Linked DNA regions of Homo sapiens. The protein of the gene in region 1 purifies or fractionates together with the protein of each later gene. This does not show direct contact. Each region holds a gene or a part of one and is shown on either strand. Other genes may lie near its edges. The genes, in order: EPSTI1 and SNTG2.

What was found.
Region 2: the proteins of EPSTI1 (region 1) and SNTG2 purify together in Homo sapiens (affinity purification with mass spectrometry; 2 studies listed by BioGRID and IntAct, with this or other methods). This does not show direct contact.

What each region holds. Positions count from the first base shown.
Region 1 is NC_000013.11:42,966,743-42,976,036, reverse strand, and holds part of EPSTI1 (epithelial-stromal interaction protein 1), read left to right. Parts: exon of another isoform or gene 1-3,269; intron 3,270-3,291; exon of another isoform or gene 3,292-5,262; intron 5,263-5,365; exon of another isoform or gene 5,366-5,366; coding exon 5,367-5,425; exon of another isoform or gene 5,426-6,410; intron 6,411-6,859; coding exon 6,860-6,943; intron 6,944-9,294. UniProt on the Homo sapiens protein: Plays a role in M1 macrophage polarization and is required for the proper regulation of gene expression during M1 versus M2 macrophage differentiation.
Region 2 is NC_000002.12:1,232,955-1,242,248, forward strand, and holds part of SNTG2 (gamma-2-syntrophin), read left to right. Parts: intron 1-4,933; coding exon 4,934-5,063; intron 5,064-6,783; coding exon 6,784-6,822; intron 6,823-9,294. UniProt on the Homo sapiens protein: Adapter protein that binds to and probably organizes the subcellular localization of a variety of proteins. May link various receptors to the actin cytoskeleton and the dystrophin glycoprotein complex.

The DNA.
Region 1 (9,294 bases):
TGACATCTCTATGTTCTGAAAATATGAATTTCTGACAGTTATTTTTACTGAGGAAGTAGTTACAAGACATTTTGTAAGTATACCTACCAGTTGGTCTCCATCTCAACGATGGTCCCATCATTGGTTTTTGGCCTCTTAAAGATGGTGAGTCTCTACAATATTGTACTTCATATACACTCTTTATATCTTTAGTGTGACTCCTTCTTGCTAACTTTTTTTTGTGTGGCTTTTACTTATGTGTGTGTGTGTGTTTAAGTGAAGAAATACATCATCTCAGGTCGATTCTATATGGTTGTGCAGATTGGTGACTACACACACTTGCCCAGCTAAGGTGTGATTTGTGGCTGAGATACATACCAAACCATGTATCTTAGTGTGGGATTACCTCCACCTGAAAGAAGCAGCACTTTTTTTCTAGTTTGCATGAATTTACAATATCTCAGTAAGCCATGGGGATCCTGGGTGTGTATGCCTCTCATTTTCTTAAAGGCATCCTATAAACAAAGGCCCCGATGATTTCCTGCTTATTTATCTGTCTTTACCCACTGTGTCTGTATTCAGCCGTCTAACAGAGGCAATGAGTTGTGCTGATGAAAGAACTAATCAATTACACATCAGCTTCTTGGGTGTGCAGACAGTATCTTAGCCTCTGTAGTTTCTGAGGCCAAAGACAATTCATAAATGTTTCCACACTGGAGATGTGGAATACTTGATCAGGGGTGGTATAATATAGGCTTAGGGGTCAAGGGTAATTCGCTCGGCCTGGTCTTGTCATTTTCTATTATTCTTGGGAATTTGATCTATGTATGAACAAACTTTTGGAAACCTAAATGCCTCAAAAGTTTTGACTCAATGTTGACTGAAAACAGTAAGTTTCTGATTCTTACATTGAAGGTCATGTAACAAAAACCAATATGGAATGTCTTATCTGGAAAGATAAGTATCGAAATGCCTTTGATTATCTCTAAGTCTTTTTTTTTCAATTTATATATACCCAAGGATAAGATTTTCTTGAACTATGAAAACTTCAACTTTTTGCAGGACTGTAGACTTTACATGTCTACTATTCTGCTTGAAATTATGTTTTTCACTTAATTTTCTCTTTCCGAACTTTTGCTCTTAACTGCATTTCTTTTTCTGTCAAACCAGTGTTGCTCCTAATTACAAATTTAAATTACATCTGGTGCAGTTTGTACACACCAGGGGATATTGTTATGTAATACTTTTAGCCAGCCAAGATATTTTTGATAACTTCAACATAACATTTTTTCAGAGTACTTATTGATAAAAAGTTATAAAAATTGTGCAAGAATGTACACACAAGATGCAGTTGTGTAACTCGAGAGACCTCGCAAGGAAAACTTTTTTTTTTTTTTTTGAGACGGAGTCTTGCTCTGTCGCCCAGGCGGGAGTGCAGTGGCGCAATCTCGGCTCACTGCAAGCTCCGCCTCCCTGGTTCACGCCATTCTCCTGCCTCAGCCTCCCAAGTAGCTGGAACTATAGGCGCCCACCACCACGCCCGGCTAATTTTTTTTGTATTTTTAGTAGAGACGGGGTTTCACCGTGTTAGCCAGGATGGTCTCAATCTCCTGACCTCGTGATCCGCCCGCCCTGGCCTCCCAAAGTGCTGGGATTACAGGCGTGAGCCACCGCGCCCGGCCAGGAAAACATTTCTTTTCTTTTTCTTTTTCTTTTTTTTTGAGACAGAGTTTCACTGTTATCGGCCAGGCTGGAGTGCAGTGGCATGATCGCAGCTCACTGCAACCTCTGCCCCCTGGGATCAAGCGATTCTCCTGCCTCAGCATCCCGAGTAGCTGGGATTACAGGCGTGTGCTATCACACCCGGCTAATTTTTGTATTTTTAGTAGAGACAGGGTTTTACCATGTTGGCCAGGCTGGTCTTGAACTCCTGACCTCAAGTGATCCACCCGCCTCAGCCCCCCAAAGTGCTGAGATTACAGGCATGAGCCACCGCGCTTGGCCAAACATTTCTTGAATATCTTTTTATTTTATGTTTCTTATGGTGCAGAAAAACATTTTATCTTGTCTGTTCTTTCATATATTCTCCCTCAGTATATCTCACGGATGTGCGCTGTTGGAAAGTGAAAATAATCTTACAAATTGAGATCTTTCATTAAATTTCAATGAGGTAATTAAGGAGACTCATTTTCAAATATATATATTTATTTCAGTGGCTTGAATGTTGCTTAATCAGGAAATGACAAGAATGCGAAATGTTGGTTGTTGGGCTTGTCTAGATTAGCAACTTTGAGAGTCAGGCTGTTGGAAGAGATAGCACATAGGTTAAAACAGCAAAGGCCTTTGCTGTGGGTACAAACTAATTGGCTGAAAACATTAATAAATTATACTTGCTCTTCATGTCAAGAGAAAGCTAAGAAAGAAGGGATGAATATTTGTATCTACTAAGGCATTACACTCTGACACATGATATTAAAAAATAAAAAGCATATCCTTTGACTTAAGCTCTTCTTCTTATATTAAGAAATAGAAATAGAAGCTAAGTTCCTTACCATTTACTTGGCAATGCTTTCTTGGGACTATTATAACATGTTTCAGATTTGGCATTTTCAGTCAATAAAATATTGCTGAGAAGGTTGCTGAGCAATTCACATAAAATTTACATAAAACGTTTATTACTGGGACCACTGCCTGGGTTTATGCTAAAATGCTTTCAGTAAAAACCCTCTAAATTCAGAGCTAATTCTTTCCCTTTATTTTATGTTTCTCTATTAGGTACCTGTAAGCTACACACATTGGCCATAGATTGACTGAAGTCCTATTCTTAAGATGGAAGATTCTAGTATGATGTCGGACTTAAAAACTTAACCAGATTAGATATTGTAGAATACAATCTTTTACAAATGAGTTGATTTTTCTCTCCAAACCTTTTGCAAAATTTCCGTAAGAGAGACTCATGGACTTGGAAAATTCTCTGTGAAGCTGCTTTTGGCAAAGTCCTGGCAAAGAAACACTTTTGCTATTTCAGATCCTATTCTTTAAGCCTCAACTTACTATTCTTATTTCGTGCTATTCAGTTTTTTACTCTTCTGAGGTCTCTATGAATCTCCACTGTTTTGGATCTCTGAGTACTTACATCATTCCCACTTTAAGACTTGTTTGGGTATTCTTTTTTAATTTATTTTTTATTTATTTATTTTTGTTTTTTTCCCCATCCAGAACTCATGTTGAGTGGTTGGATATTCTCGTGGGGTGCTTTTGTGGTTTCTTGACTTGTTCCTAACTAAAGTGTAAGTTCTGTTAAAGTGATTAGTATCCCTGTTCTGGAATCTCCCCTCACTCTCTACAAGCCCCTAATACAATAAATCCATAATAAGTGCCCAGTTAAGTAGGTTGCATTGTTTGGAAGTCTATCAAGGGACTAAAGTTAAAGGATGGTCATATTTTATGCTTTGCACATTGAGTTGAAAAGTTAGCTGCAGACAGAAAACTGATCTAAGTCAAAAGTCTTAGACTGGAGTCTCATCAGTGTTGCTCAATTGACCTGGTGATCTTTGGCCTGAGATTCAACCTCTGTGTCTTTACCAGTGATTTATGAATACCTAAGTTTTCTTTTATCCCAAATGTTCTAAGATAGCTTGATTGCTCTATAGTAGTGGTTTTCCAAGTGTGGTACCTAGATCAAGAACAGCATCATCTTGGAACTTGTTAAAAATGTAAGTTATTTGACCCAGTCGCAGGCTACTGAATTAGAAACTCTCAAGCTCGCGGACAAGCCCTCCTGGTGATTATGATGCACGATAAAGGCTGAGAACTACTGATCTGGAGTATAGTCAAATTTGTGGTATAGAGAGAAGCTCTATACCACAATGTTAGCAGACATTGAAGATTGTGTAGCAATTTCATGATTGGCATTTACGTCTCGTATCTGATGTTTCAGCTTTCAGTCTCTGTAGCATGGCTCACCATTGCATCATATTCAAGTTTCCAGGGACTACCCACGGGATTGTAGCTTCCAAGCTCCTAAAAAGTACTGGCAATTCAGAAGTGAAAAATGTTTCTTAGGGTGTACAAAGAATGTGCAATGGACAAGGGATTAATTGCCAGTGGCAGTCTCCTAATTTTGTATTCATAACGTTGTATGCATGCTAGGCTACACATGCAACGTCTGCTGATATACATTAAGTAATTGGGCATCCAGCAGCCCCATTTGCATGCAAAGGCTGTTGCACACCTCACATTTACAAGTCTAAAATTAAAGCCCAGTTTGAAGCTGGCTGAAGGCTAGCTGCTAGAAAAATAATGAGATAAGGAAGGAAATGGCTTCTGTTGATCAGTGCTTTTGGCCTCTACAGTTCAATCTTTGCTAATTTGCCCTTTGAAATTGTGTATTCAGGTAGAAGAGAGAGACTTCCAAGAGTATCTGGGTGGGGTTTTTTCCCTCCCTCTTAAATCCTACAGTTAGAAGCTGGTTGTGTTTATCCACAGCATTTCTCTTAAAACTGTACCTACATGTATGCTGCAGTCTGTTGCTGTGCTATATTATTGCTTAATGGAGTATTCATGTTCTTGTGGGATCACGTGCATCATCTCAAAAAAGAGCCACCCCCACACAGACTCACAGGCTGGGTCTGTAGCATCATTTTGTTTTAATTCAGCCCACATTTATCAAGCAGCCAATGTCTTTGTGCCAGACACTGTGCCAGGGGCTTGGAATACACATCAATCAAGCACACTCTCTGCCCTCAAAAGCTCACAATATTTTAACAGCTTCCTAGTGTCACAGAGGTGAATATTTTTCTTAAAAAGTCTTCCCTGATCCGCCTGGTTGAAATGACTCCTTGCTTCTCCGAGCCCCTGATTATGCTCAACCTGTGTCCCTAGGAGAAGAAGAGACCAGTGGACATAGGCCTAGAAAAGTCAAAGCCTAAAAGCCAGTTAGTTACTCAGATCATCAAGAGGAGGTGGCTGCATTGCAAATGGCCTCTAGGATCAGTCTGTGGGAACAGAAAATGTACCAATGTTTCCTGTACCCCGGTGTGGTCACACAGAAGAGAATGCCAATCTAAAGCCATCTTAAAGGAATTTACTCACAAGCACCACCTAGAGGAACGGTGGAGCCCTACAAGGACAGTACACCAACTAGTCACTTGTCACTCATCGAATGCTTTATATTTTCATATTTGGCCATGTCCTTTGTTTTACTTTGACATCAAGATTGTGAGGTCCCAGAGAACAGATCAGGGTCTTAAGAAGATTATCTTTCATAGTGCCTATTTGATGGTAATGATCATAAATACAGTATAATAGAAGGAAAAATATCTGGTGGCTTATATGCATTGGTAGTTTCTCATGGTAATAAGCATTTTTTTTTCTCTTCCTTTTAGCACAAGTGCATACACCTTGATAGCACCAAATATAAACCGGAGAAATGAGATACAAAGAAGTATGTATAGTCATTCATTTAACATTCAGAATGCTTCTCTCTTTTTACAATTGGTTTGTTTTGGTGTGAAGTATTTTTATTTTCTCATTTATATAGACTCACCAAATCTCATCAAGGTTTTTTGTTTTTTTTAGTTTTGATTATACCTTTAAAAATATTCTACTATTAACACTTCTAAGTTTGTTTCTCTACGTTAGTAACAGAACTCATGACATGATGGTAGATCCTGGATTTCTGTTGGCTTGAACAACTTTACACTTATTGCCAATAAACCTCCTTGAGGGTAGGGACCACATCTTACTCGTTTTTGTGCTCTCTGTACTTAATGCGTACATAACATGTTTAATTGATGTACAGTAAATATAAATGCTGCCATTTAAAGTTATAGCATTATCCTTTAGAGGTGGAAGAGAACTAAAGTTCATTTAGTTCACAAAGAAATTGTAGGCTTGCTCAAGTCCAGCTGTGGGGCTATGCTGAAATTCGATGGTCTCCTTTATTACATGATTGGTAGGAAATTTAACTTCATGACTAATGATGGACAGAAAGGCACAAAAGGGAAAAAGCTCTCTAAAGAGTCTCCACCGGACATGTAGCTCCGGGTGGGACAGCGGGTCAGTGCAGAATATGACAATCACAGCCATGCAGGGACTATGGGAACTGCCAGCAGTTCTGGTATCTTACAAGCTTTTGATTTAAATACTTAATAGGAGATTAAGTCTCAATGTGGTCTGGATTTCGAAATGTTTCAGAATTTGTTTTTCTAGTAATGGACATTTGAAACAGGTCTCATGAGGAGATAAGGGGAGGCGCTGGAGTGACAGAACTAATTTCTCTCTGGCGCCCCCTGCTGTCGTGCAGAGTGAACATTTAGGAAATGAGCCCTGCTCCCCAGGAAGCCGACTCTGCACAGTGGTCTGGAGTGCCTGAAACCAGAGCAAGGGTCTCCACCTGTAGCACCGAGCCCTCATTCCCTAGAGTCGCAGTAAGCTTGGGAGCATTGAAGATAAAGCGAGTATGGGCATCAGAATTCTCTGGGGATATGTTTACCTATGTGTGGAAAGTTCTTATTGACGTGAAAATATTCTAGTTTTGCACACATTTTCTATAGGTAACTTTAAAAATTAACTTGATATAGAGTTTTAAAAATGCCAGAATGGTAGGAAAATCTATACTTCTTTTAGTAGGAGCCCAGGTGGTTTTTCAAATTCGAACCCTCTGTGCTGACTCTTGGTGAGAATGTGCCACAGGGCCGGGCCCAGGATGACCTGTACGGGTCAGGGCTGAATATTGTGTTTCTAACCTGGAAGCCTTGTTCACTCATGCTCACATATAGTTAATTGCCTTCTAATAGTTGTTTCTTATGCTTTGAAGGGACTGGTTTTCTTTTAGAAGTCTAATAATTGACGATTTGATATTTCTCGCCTGGCTTAGTTGCGGAGCAGGAGCTGGCCAACCTGGAGAAGTGGAAGGAGCAGAACAGAGCTAAACCGGTTCACCTGGTGCCCAGACGGCTAGGTAAGCAAGCACAGCCGCTGCCGGAATGAGGGAGGGCGGGGCCACCTATGGATCCTGTAAGCAGCTTGCATATGTCTGTCTGTGAATGTCCATTGTAGTTTGTTTGGTCATTGTGCTGCTTGGGTGGAATGCATTTAATTGTGTGTGTGTGTGTGTGTGTGTGTGTGTGTGTATTTTTTTTTTTTTCTGATTTTCTGCAAGTAGCAAACCTGTAATGCCAGAGTTCTATGGGAACACAGTGATGGCTTAATTGCCAAATAATTTAGAGCCTCTTAGATGATTGACTCTGAAAAAGCTTACCTGGGGCGCTGCATATGCCCTGTCATAGCACTAGTCAGGATGGGAGTAAATGCTGGCACAAGCATATTAATCATGGCAGTTAAATGTTAATCTGAAGAAAAGGAGTGGAGAGTCAGTTCCAAGAGGGAGATGAGAGTGAGCTGGAAACCCGGTGGTGGGTATAAGAGAAACATCACCTGTGTTTTTATTCTACAGATAGAGACCTCTGGGCCTCTGGAGCAGGTGCTGCCAGTGTGATGAATTGTCTGGGCCGCCTTTGCCGGTGTTTGAATCATTCAGAAGGGATGCCACCTAATGGGAATCATTCACATCTTTTCTTTGCTTTTTCTCTTCTATCAGCAGCCGAAAATTTAAAGGGTTGGACACACAGTGTCCACAGATTTAGTTAATACAAGCATGTCTTGTGTCAGGGGCCACTTACGGTTGTGATAGTTTTAGAGAAGTTCCCTCCCCACACCCTGCCCCCCCACCAAGAACATAGGTAAAAATAATCTAATTTGGAAATTATTTAATGGGAGGAAGTAATAGTAATATTATCATCATCCCACTGTATTTCGTGAAAAGGGCTAATCTCAAGTGCCTCCTTTGTGCAAATGAGCCAGACTCGAAGGGTACAATCAGAAAACAGCTTTAATCTTTCCTAGCTTGGCCCCTGAGATTGGCTATGTGAGAACAGTCTTTCTCAGGCTTTTTGGATGATGTAAGAAATTAAAGCTTTTTGGTCTCTTTCAAACAGTAGAGTGACCTAGCTAATTCTAGGCCTAAAACAGTCTCATTTCAGTAATTAATGTTCAGTCTTAGGTACTGATCAAAATTCTGTTACTAATGGAGATGAGAGCTTCTCCCCTGCTCTAACCCAGGCCTGTTTCAGGTAGGAATCCAGCAAGTAGAACAGGGTGTGGCTGGACTTTTCTCTATTCATGGCTCTGTTCCCAGATTCTGACCTTTCTGGGATTGAAGGGGGAAGTGGAGGGAGATAAGAGAGTTCGGGGTTCGTAATGCAGTGATCCTTGTTTCTTTGAGCCTAGGTTTACACTGACTGCTCGTTCTTCTTCCTGGGAATCTTCGAGTTTTTCAGCATCCCCCACTCTCTGCTACCCATCTCCCACCTGGATTTCCCTGATACAGACGATTTCCTCTCCTGTCGGCAGGGCTTGGCCTCACTGTTGGCTCTTGGTAGACTCCTTTTAGGGTTCCATTGTTCTTGACATGGCCCTCATAGGCAAGTCCCTTTAGATGGCTTTAGGTTGGCATTCTCTTTCATGAGAATCACATTAAAAGTACAGGAAATACTTGTGCATTCTTTCTTTTCATAAACTGTGAATGTGGGCCATTTGTAATGTAGCTACCTCTTCTTGAGGACTCATCTCAGTGGCCAATGGACAACAGCCTTATACCTTTAGGCTCTAACTGTTCTAGGCATGAATCCAATAAGACCCTCAGACTCTTAAAAATGCAGGTTGAGGTCTCCAGCTGATTTTCTTTTTTTTTTTTTTTTTTTTTTAATTTATTTTTTTATTGATAATTCTTGGGTGTTTCTCACAGAGGGGGATTTGGCAGGGTCATGGGACAATAGTGGAGGGAAGGTCAGCAGATAAACAAGTGAACAAAGGTCTCTGGTTTTCCTAGGCAGAGGACCCTGCGGCCTTCCGCAGTGTTTGTGTCCCTGATTACTTGAGATTAGGGATTGGTGATGACTCTTAACGAGCATGCTGCCTTCAAGCATCTGTTTAACAAAGCACATCTTGCACCGCCCTTAATCCATTTAACCCTGAGTGGACACAGCACATGTTTCAGGGAGCACAGGGTTGGGGGTAAGGTCACAGATCAACAGGATTCCCAAGGCAGAGGAATTTTTCTTAGTGCAGAACAAAATGAAAAGTCTCCCATGTCTACTTCTTTCTACACAGACACGGCAACCATCCGATTTCTCAATCTTTTCCCCACCTTTCCCGCCTTTCTATTCCACAAAGCCGCCATTGTCATCCTGGCCCGTTCTCAATGAGCTGTTGGGCACACCTCCCAGACGGGGTGGTGGCCGGGCGGAGGCG
Region 2 (9,294 bases), on another chromosome or scaffold:
TGCACACCTTTCCTCTCTGTTACCACAGGCACAGAGGGAGGTGGTGGCCAGAGCCGACAGGGAGTGACAGGCTGTGGTTGTAATGAAGGCCACCAGCCATCATTTATGGATGAAAGCTTCCTTGGTTAAATTTTGTACGTTCCAATGTATTTATTCTTTAAAAACTGGACAGCTTATTAAAAAGGCGATTTACACATTTTGACTTTCTCCGGCATTGAAGCTTTGACGAGCAATTAAGAATTCTCAGTTTTTAGGGTCAAATTTTATAGTTACTGGAATCCCACAGCACAAGGGAAGCAGAAGGTTGGAAGAGTGGTCATTGGTAGCGGATGTAGCAGGGGTCTCGGTTTGGGGCTTTAATGACAACTGCTAATGCTCTGTGATTGGTTTCCGCTGAAACAGATGATTTGAAAAAGGGTCAAATCTGTTGAGGTGTGTTTTGTGACAGGAAGATTCCCAGCGGTGTGGGCGGGATTCGGAGGCCTTTCTGCATGTGGACAGGAAGACCGCAGCGAAGGCAGGCAGTGTGACCGGGCACATGAGAGCTGGGCTGTGGGGCTTTTCCCGGCAGGAGCCGCAGGGTGCAGGGTTGAGGCTGGCACTGAGCCCACAGTCAAGAGCGCAGGAAGAACGGCTTAAACAGACTGGCTGTCCTCCACAGGAGGTGGAGACCTGAGCACGTAACTTCAATTCCTTAATGTCCTAATACGTTAAGACATGTGCTTTGAACGTTATTGGAATAAATTTATTTCTCTTAGCCAAAAACTGAATTGATTCACTTTCTAGAGTATAAGTCTATTTTCAGTTTTCTCTTTGGAATTGAAAAATTCTCTAAGGGCACGAGGAAACCCTGGGAGGAGGGTAGACTTTTCAAAAGTGCCGACACAGTCAGTGCTTGACTTCCCCATGGATGGCGAGTGTCTGGGAGCTGGTTTGGTTTCTTCTCGGTGGACCCCGGGGTGCCAAGCGCTCTGCCTTCACTTGGTGTGGCTTTGCTTACAGCAGCTTCCTACAATCTCATGTGTGTCCATCAAAGAGCATGTTAGCTCCTGAGCAGCAGATGCTCTGTGAATTTTAGCTCCGATAATGACCTTGGCCACGTGAACACCATCCTAAAAGGCCTGAGCGGCCACCATGAGGCGGGTAGAGAGGCCGGGTTCCAACTGTGAGCCACGGAGGAAACTCGGAGGAAACCGTGAAACTCGGAGGAAACAAAGGCCCAGAAATGCCCTGGAAGAAGCGGCTCCTGATCTTGCATCCAGACGTGCCTGAAAGCAGATTGCGTGACTTACACTAGTTACCCGGCTTCTATAACAATAAACCAAACAGTGAACCAACAGTGAGCCACGCTGTGAACTTTCTTTCCCTGTTTCATTAACATGTTAGTATCTGCCATCAGCATTCATGTCAACAACTTTCACAGTTTCTGTTCATTTGATACTTAATTTTTATTGCTTTCTTTGATAAATTACAGACTAATAATGTTTATATGGTACTTACGGGCTTACAAATAACTTTGTTTCAGTTATCCCATTTGTTCCTCTCAGTATTCCTATTTTGTGGTACGGTTGGCATTTGAAGCCCATCGTACGGACAAGGAAAGCCCAGCTCAGAGGTGAGATGTCCAGCCTGCCTCATGAAGCTATGGCATAAACGTGCCTGGACTGCAGACGCCTTCCTTTTTATTGCAGGACACAGCCGTCTGCCCCTCGTGCGAGTCCGTGAGCCTCTGGGGCTCCACGTGCATTCACTGCCTCAGGGGGCAAAGCTGATGATCTTTCTCAAGACCACAGCATCGATAAAGGGTCCTTCATGGAGCCTGGGTCCACTGTCTCTACTCACATCTTATTCCTGCTACATCAATGATGGTGTAAACCTCCAAAGGCAGAGTTAGGACTCTGGACTCAGATTCCTTCTCACCACTGACTTTACGAGGATGACCACAGTACTGACCCTGCTGAGAGCACCCAGTGTTCAGTCATCCATGCATTTGGTGCATACGTCACCAACCCTGAGAATCAGGAAATGCCAACTCCCTGAGAAGACACTGTCGTTAGTACATGTGAGCTGGAGCCAAGCGGTGACCATGCGTGTCCTTCACACGCCCTCACGCGCAACCAGGGACCCCCAATTCATGAGAGGGGGGACCCCTGCCCCCATGCTGCCCTGAGGTCCCTGCAGGCCCCACCAGGCACCCCCGATTCATGAGAGGGGGCGCCCCTACCCCACTCTGCCCTGAGGTCCCTACAGGCCCCACCAGGCACCCCCGATTCATGAGAGGGGGCGCCCCTACCCCATGCTGCCCTGAGGTCCCTGCAGGCCCCACCAGGCACACCCTATTCATGAGAGGGGGGCCCCTGCCCCACGCTGCCCTGAGGTCCCTGCAGGCCCCACCAGGCACCCCCGATTCATGAGAGGGGGGACCCCTGCCCCACGCTGCCCTGAGGTCCCTGCAGGCCCCACCAGGCACCCCCGATTCATGAGAGGGGGCGCCCCTACCCCATGCTGCCCTGAGGTCCCTGCAGGCCCCACCAGGCACACCCTATTCATGAGAGGGGGGCCCCTGCCCCACGCTGCCCTGAGGTCCCTGCAGGCCCCACCAGGCACCCCCGATTCATGAGAGGGGGGACCCCTGCCCCACGCTGCCCTGAGGTCCCTGCAGGCCCCACGAGGCACCCCCGATTCATGAGAGGAGGCACCCTTACCCCCACGCTGCCCCAGGATCCCTGCAGGCCCCCTAGTCTAGCTGGATCCAGGAAAAGCTGCCCCTGGCCCACACTGGCACCACCCCCTGTTCCTCCCCAGGCCTTTGGAGAAGAACAGGCTCTTCTGAAAGAATAAAAGCGTAGAGCTCTGAGATGGGGAAAATTGGAGGATGGGACACAGGGAACTTTTGAGGATTCTTCTAAAGTCTGTTTTTGGTCTGAGAGTTGGTTGGCCAAGAGTATGGAATACATGACTGTTTATCGAGGTGTTCACTGGTGAGTTGTGTGCGTGTGTGTGTGTCCTGTAGCTCAATGTAAAATATGCCTAAAAATAATAGTCTCTGACCTCTTCATGTGGGGAGCCAGGGAACTTGGCTGTCGTCCGCAATAATCTACTTGACCCAGCTGTTTATTAACCACTAGATTAAGGTCAGCCTTGCTTTGTATATGTCGCACCAGTTAACATGAACAAATGAGAAATGATGGCAATGAACCCATTTTTAGTTAGCACTTACTTTAATAAGAATTAATGGATACTTGGACAAAAGTGTAGATATAAGTCTGTCAATATTTAATAAGCACCTAATTCATGTGGAATATTACACAATCTGCCTAAAATAGTCTCCCAGCATTTTGAAGTGTAAAAATTAATTTATTATAGCAGACATCCAGGACCAAAGGCCCCACGGGAAGCGATGGATCCTGAGGGACAGGTGCTCCCCAGGAGGACCAGGAAAGGTGATCAGAAAGGGCTGTGCGAAGGTGGAGGCAGAGCTGCCTGCCCTCCCCATGCAGGGGACCTGCTTCCTCTGGCTTCTTCCCCTCTCCGGCTCCACACAGTCACCTCCACCTTCACCTCTGTCCTCCTGCCAAGTCAAGAGTACCTTGTTCATCGCCATCAGGCAGAATATCAGCCACAAGTAGATAAACCTCACATTCTGATTCAAGAAACACTAATTAGAATGAGAATGACCCCTAGACAGGGATGTCAGCTTTTTAAAAGAATGACTTTTAAAATAGCAAACTCTGGTCTGATAGATTTGGCTCAAAAATATGCAGAACTGTGTTATACCATCTCTGTTTCCTACCCCTTCTCCTACACACCCCACCTTGCCTAAGAAAGCAGCGATGACACTCACATTTGAAAGATTATTAGAACATAGCTTAGTGATGACTTATTTTTTTAAAAAAATATGTTTGCTTTGTTCTGTATTTTATCTTCAGTTAGCTGCTTGAGACCATGGAGGTATTATGAGTCATATACATTAATATGCATTGTTTTCTTTTTTTCTTTTTTTTTTCAGATAGGGTCTCACTCTGTTGCCCAGGCTGGAGTGCAGTGGTGTGATCTCGGCTCACTGCAACCTCTGCCTCCTGGGTTCAGGAGATTCTCCTGCCGTAGCCTTCCGAGTAGCTGGAGCTACAGGTGTGTGCCACCATGCCCGGCTAATTTTTGTATTTTTCGTAGAGATGGGACTTCACCATGTTGGCCAGGCTGATTTCGAACTCCTGACCTCAAGTGATCCACCTACCTCAGTCTTCCAACGTCCTGTGATTATAGGCGTGAGCCACTGCGCCCGGCCAATATGCACTATTTTCTTAAGAAAAAGTCTATAAAAGTGTACATGACATTTCTCTTTTGCAAATAGGCATATGTAAAGTATGTTTTTAAAAAATATTGCATGACAGGGAAGAACTACTGAATTTGAGACGGTTGGTTGTTAATACTTTGCCATGATTGAGTTCTCAGCAAGTGGAGTGTCATGGAGCAGTGGAAGGGGACTATGTTCTCCCAAAGCTCCCCTGTCAATCAGAAGCACACAGGTGGTCCTAGAGAAGGGTGGATGCTGAGTGCAGAGGGTGCTGGGCTGCTCCAGCCTCACCCCATCAGGAGCTTTAAGTGCTCCATCCAAAGGGTCTTCGAAAGAATAACCAGTAAGAATCCTGCAGACAATAACTCCAGAATTTCAGGAGCACTGTTCTTTCCTTGACAAAGTGCTTTTCATGTTTCATCGAATTAGAAGTAGCTCCTGTTACCAAGGGAATTCGGGGTTTGGTCTTGGTCTCAGCGAGCCTGCTGACTGTACTGAGGCGCCTGAGGAAGTGGTGCAGTTGCCCCATGTCCTGGGTCCAGGGTAGAGCCCTGCTGAGCATCAGCCTCGAAACTCACGGAGGCAGGCCCGCTCCCGTCGCTGCGGGGCCTCCTGGACAGCTCTCTCCCTCCCCAGGTGGAATGCGTTCGAGGTGCTCGCCCTGGACGGAGTCAGCTCTGGGATCCTCCGGTTTTACACAGCCCAGGATGGCACCGACTGGCTGCGGGCGGTCTCAGCCAACATCAGGGAGCTGACACTTCAGAACGTGAGCACACGGTGTTTCTGAGTCTCTGCTGATGCTCATTCGTGCATGAAAAATAATGGAGACATCATGTTTCTGATGATTTATGATTAACCCGAAACAGAAAATCATGTACTTGTTTCAATGTGTCAAATCTATGTCTAAAAACATTAAAAATGAAGCCATCAGAATGTTTCCAAATCAAAGAGTAAGGCAATGTCTAACAGCTGAGAATTTCCCATCTGGTTTTGTCTTCCTCCTCCCCTCTGTCTGCCTCTGTCTCTCTCCCTCCCTTCCTCTCTCTTTCTCTCCACACACATATACAGAAATAGTTATATGTCATAATTTTATATTTTACCCAAATGCATTGATACAGTGTGACATTTTGAGTTGGGGAAACCTAATTGAGTTAAAAGTATAATTCTCCCAAACATTATGAAGATTTAGAAAAAGGCATAATTGAGCAAAAACATTACTTCTCAAATTTGTACTGCAGTCCCCCAGAAACGAAAAAGTATTCTGTCCCCTTAAGTGATGTTTGATATTAAAAGTCAACAGGATTTTAAAAATTAAAGAAATGAAAAGAGATGGGGTGGGAACGAAGACTTGATGACACGGGCGTTGCCTGGAGTGATGGGTGCCTGGACTCGGACATGGAGCCGTGGCCGCAGCCCTGGCAACTGTGGCAGGACTGGCCGTGCCTGGAGGCGGCCCTGGACCAGCCTTGCTGCCCTTGCTCCCTCTAAGCTGAGTTGCCCTGTAATTGCACTTCGATCCCTGCTCTGTTCCTTCGCAGCCTGGAGGCTGCAGAGGCTGGGTCCAGCTTGCAGACTGGCCAGGCGTGGCCCACCCTGCGGCCCTGCAGATGCACCCGCCCTGCCCCTGCCCTGCCCACCACCTCACGTCTCCCTTGCAACCTCCCTTCTTCCTGTGGCTGCAAAACAGAAGTTAACCTAACACTGGGGGAAGCAGCAATGTGTGACATTTCTCCTGTGAAGACCTCAGGGGCTTCCTTTCTGCAAGCAGAGAAGGAAGTACCAGGACCTTCCTAACATTGTAGTTTTCAAACGCAACACTTTAAATTCCAAAGTTATCTCAATAAATAGGGAAGAAAGGATGGTGCTTGACTTATATTTGCAGAAATGTTTGTGACGAGGAGCGCCCTTCAGTTCTGTCATTTCACAAATCAGCCCTCATAGGCAGGGCAGAGAAGTCAGACACCCCAATATTTCAGAACAGAAATGTGGACTCTGAGCTGCCTCCCGGCTGTGTGGCTGTGGGCTGTGGGAACATTATGATTCTGCACCTCCACTTCCTCGGTGAAATTTTGGAAAACAACATCTACCTCCATAGGTCATTGGGAGAACTAAATAAAAGAAAGAATATCAACTGTGATCACCGTAATTACCATCACAGTAATACTGACTCTCACAAGGTTATGTAGAGCAGAAATCATTTCCTCACTTTTCTCAGATATTGGAATTTAAGCACCTGCTCTTGAAGTGTAACTTCACTTACATAAATGCTGATATTTGAAAAAGAGGAATTGAAGCCTGCTAGTAAAGTTGTTTTCTACTGCTGCCATGTTTGTATTGACTCTGGCTAGGTCTTCAGATAGGAAATATGTCATTAAAGAGGCCTGTTTCCCAGGACAGAGCGTGGCTGATGACTTCCAGCTGTCACTCAGGTGAGCCATCCTGGTGTTGGTGGCTGTGGCCCTGACTCTTCTGCCTTCTCTCCACAGATGAAGATGGCGAACAAATGCTGCTCTCCTTCCGACCAGGTAGGGTTTGTATTTTCTGCTTCATGATGTAACACATCAGGTAGGGTTTGTATTTTCTGATTCATGATGTAACACATCTCGAAAAGCAGTCTCTGGTTTTTTGAAATTTGATTTGAAAATGTTGATAGGAAAACATTAGCACATTTCAGACTGCATTTGGTGGTCTCTGCCCTGCCTGTTAATTCTATAAAACTGCTCTTTCTGTGGGAATAGCATAGGTCATTCTGATCTCCTGTGTATAGATTATTTCTCTATTGGCAGTTATGTTTTGTAAAGAATCGTGATTTAAATGATGATTTAGATATGATTGTTTAAACTGAGAAGGGCTTTGAGATGACACACCTGTGTAATTTGAAATTTTAAGCATTATATTATTTTCTTAAATAAAATCCTTACTAGGAAAGCTTCATTCTCAGGAGGGCTTTGGCCCAGTGGGTGTTATTGCCAGTGGGTAGGATCCTGTCATCCCCAAATCCAGGCAGTTTGTTCACCTGGAGCCCAGAGCCCTTAACGTTGTCCTGGATTCAGGATAGCTACCTTTGTAGCCACCCTCAGGCCTGATTTTCTGCTCACTTCCCACGTCTATGAGTACTTAGGAAAACTCTATGGTAATCAAGCTGTTTCAATATCAGCCAAATCAGTTTTTAAGCCACTGTGTTATTCTTCTGTTTCCTTTATAATAAACTTATGATTTAACTTGTAATGTAAGGGAGTATGTTATTTATAGTTCATTCATTTTCTGGTTACATCTCTTAGGGGCGTAAGGAAGCATGCATCATAGCCTCAAGTTAAGAAAACTGAGAAAAACATGTTCGCTTTGCTTTAAATAGCGCACAAAAGACTTTAAATAGTGCTTAGCAAGAATATTTGAATTCACGATGGAGGACTTGAGAAGAGCAGGTCCTCTGCCTATGAAATATTTACTAAAACAATGGGAAAATAGGGCTGTGTTTTAAATTAAACCTCTCTAGTCAACATTTCTACATTAGAAAAGAAACACTAAGAATAAATGGTTCTTCTAACTTTTATCTCTTTTAATATTATTCTAAAATTACCATCAACTATTTTTGTTTACATAGATATTTTATGATTAATATTTCTATAAATTCTTCAAATTAATATAGGATTCATTTCATATTCTTATACATAAAATATCATTTCCCTACTATGTGTTTTTGAAACAGAAGTTCTGAAACTTTTCCACAAAGTACATATCTCTCTATGGTTCACACAGGAAACAGCCTTTATCAAGGCTGGTGGGACAGTGGGCCAAAGTTTTGACATGATCTCTATGAATAATTTACCATTTTGAAATTGCATCTTATTCACACACGCAAAATTAGCAAAATGTTTCCTGAGATCCTCTTTATGGCAAAGCTGAGACTCTTCCGAGATCTTAGGAGGAGCCGCAGCTTCTGGTATTTCTCAGTGTTGGCTGCTTCTTCCCTGTTTCTCAGTTTGTTCGTCATGAGGACAGCCGTCCTCTCCCGACCCTCAGAGGGGTTGTCACCTTGCAGACAGATCCTTGATGCTAAACAGTGATGTCCGCAAGTGGAGAGCATACGTGGGAATGGGCAGCATTTATGGACTTGGCCTTTACGTGTTTCAGAGAAATGCTGACTTTTGTAGCTATACTGGAATTACTCCTCATGTTGGAAAGAGCACTGCTCCGGAGAGGAAAGCATTTTCTTTTTTTTTTATTATTATTATTATACTTTAAGTTTCAGGGTACATGTGCACAACGTGCAGGTTAGTTACATATGTATACATGTACCATGTGGTGCGCTGCACCCAGTAACTCATCATTTAACATTAAGTATATCTCCAAATGCTATCCTTCACCCTCTCCCCACCCCTTAATCCTCCTTATCATCAACTGACAAGAGAGAATGATGAAATAATGGTTCAGAGAAATGTAAAAACCTGTAGGGAGCACAGTTTCCGCTATGGAGCACATTGAAGGAGCATCTTCCAGAGACCTCAGAGGCAGTGGGCGGCCTTGTTTTTGCTTCATCTCAGTGAAATTCTCCCACATATTAAGCCTTGTGTATTTCACATCGATCTTGGTGGCCTTGTTTGACAAAGCAAAAAGCCAAAGGCAAACCCTGGACCTGATAACCCTGACCAAACCCTTCTCTGGTGTTGTAATTTTAACAAATTCACTCCTGAGGCTTAATTTCTTTATCTGTAATATAAGAAAGTTGTACTGGGTAATTTAAGGTCCTTTTTACAACCTTAAAAGTCCTATACAACTTTGAATTTACTTAGCAGCTTGGAGTAGTTTATTTGGAAATTGATCTTAGAGCTGAGCTTCATTATGTAGGATGATGAAGAACTAGCCCTGCTATATCCGGATGCGCTTTTGGTGGAGGATGGTTTCACGTTTTCTCCAAAAGTGGTGTGCTTTGTACAAATGTTAGGAGTTTAAATTTAAGACATTAGGCCCTTTAAAACAGAAAGAAAATTTTTTTT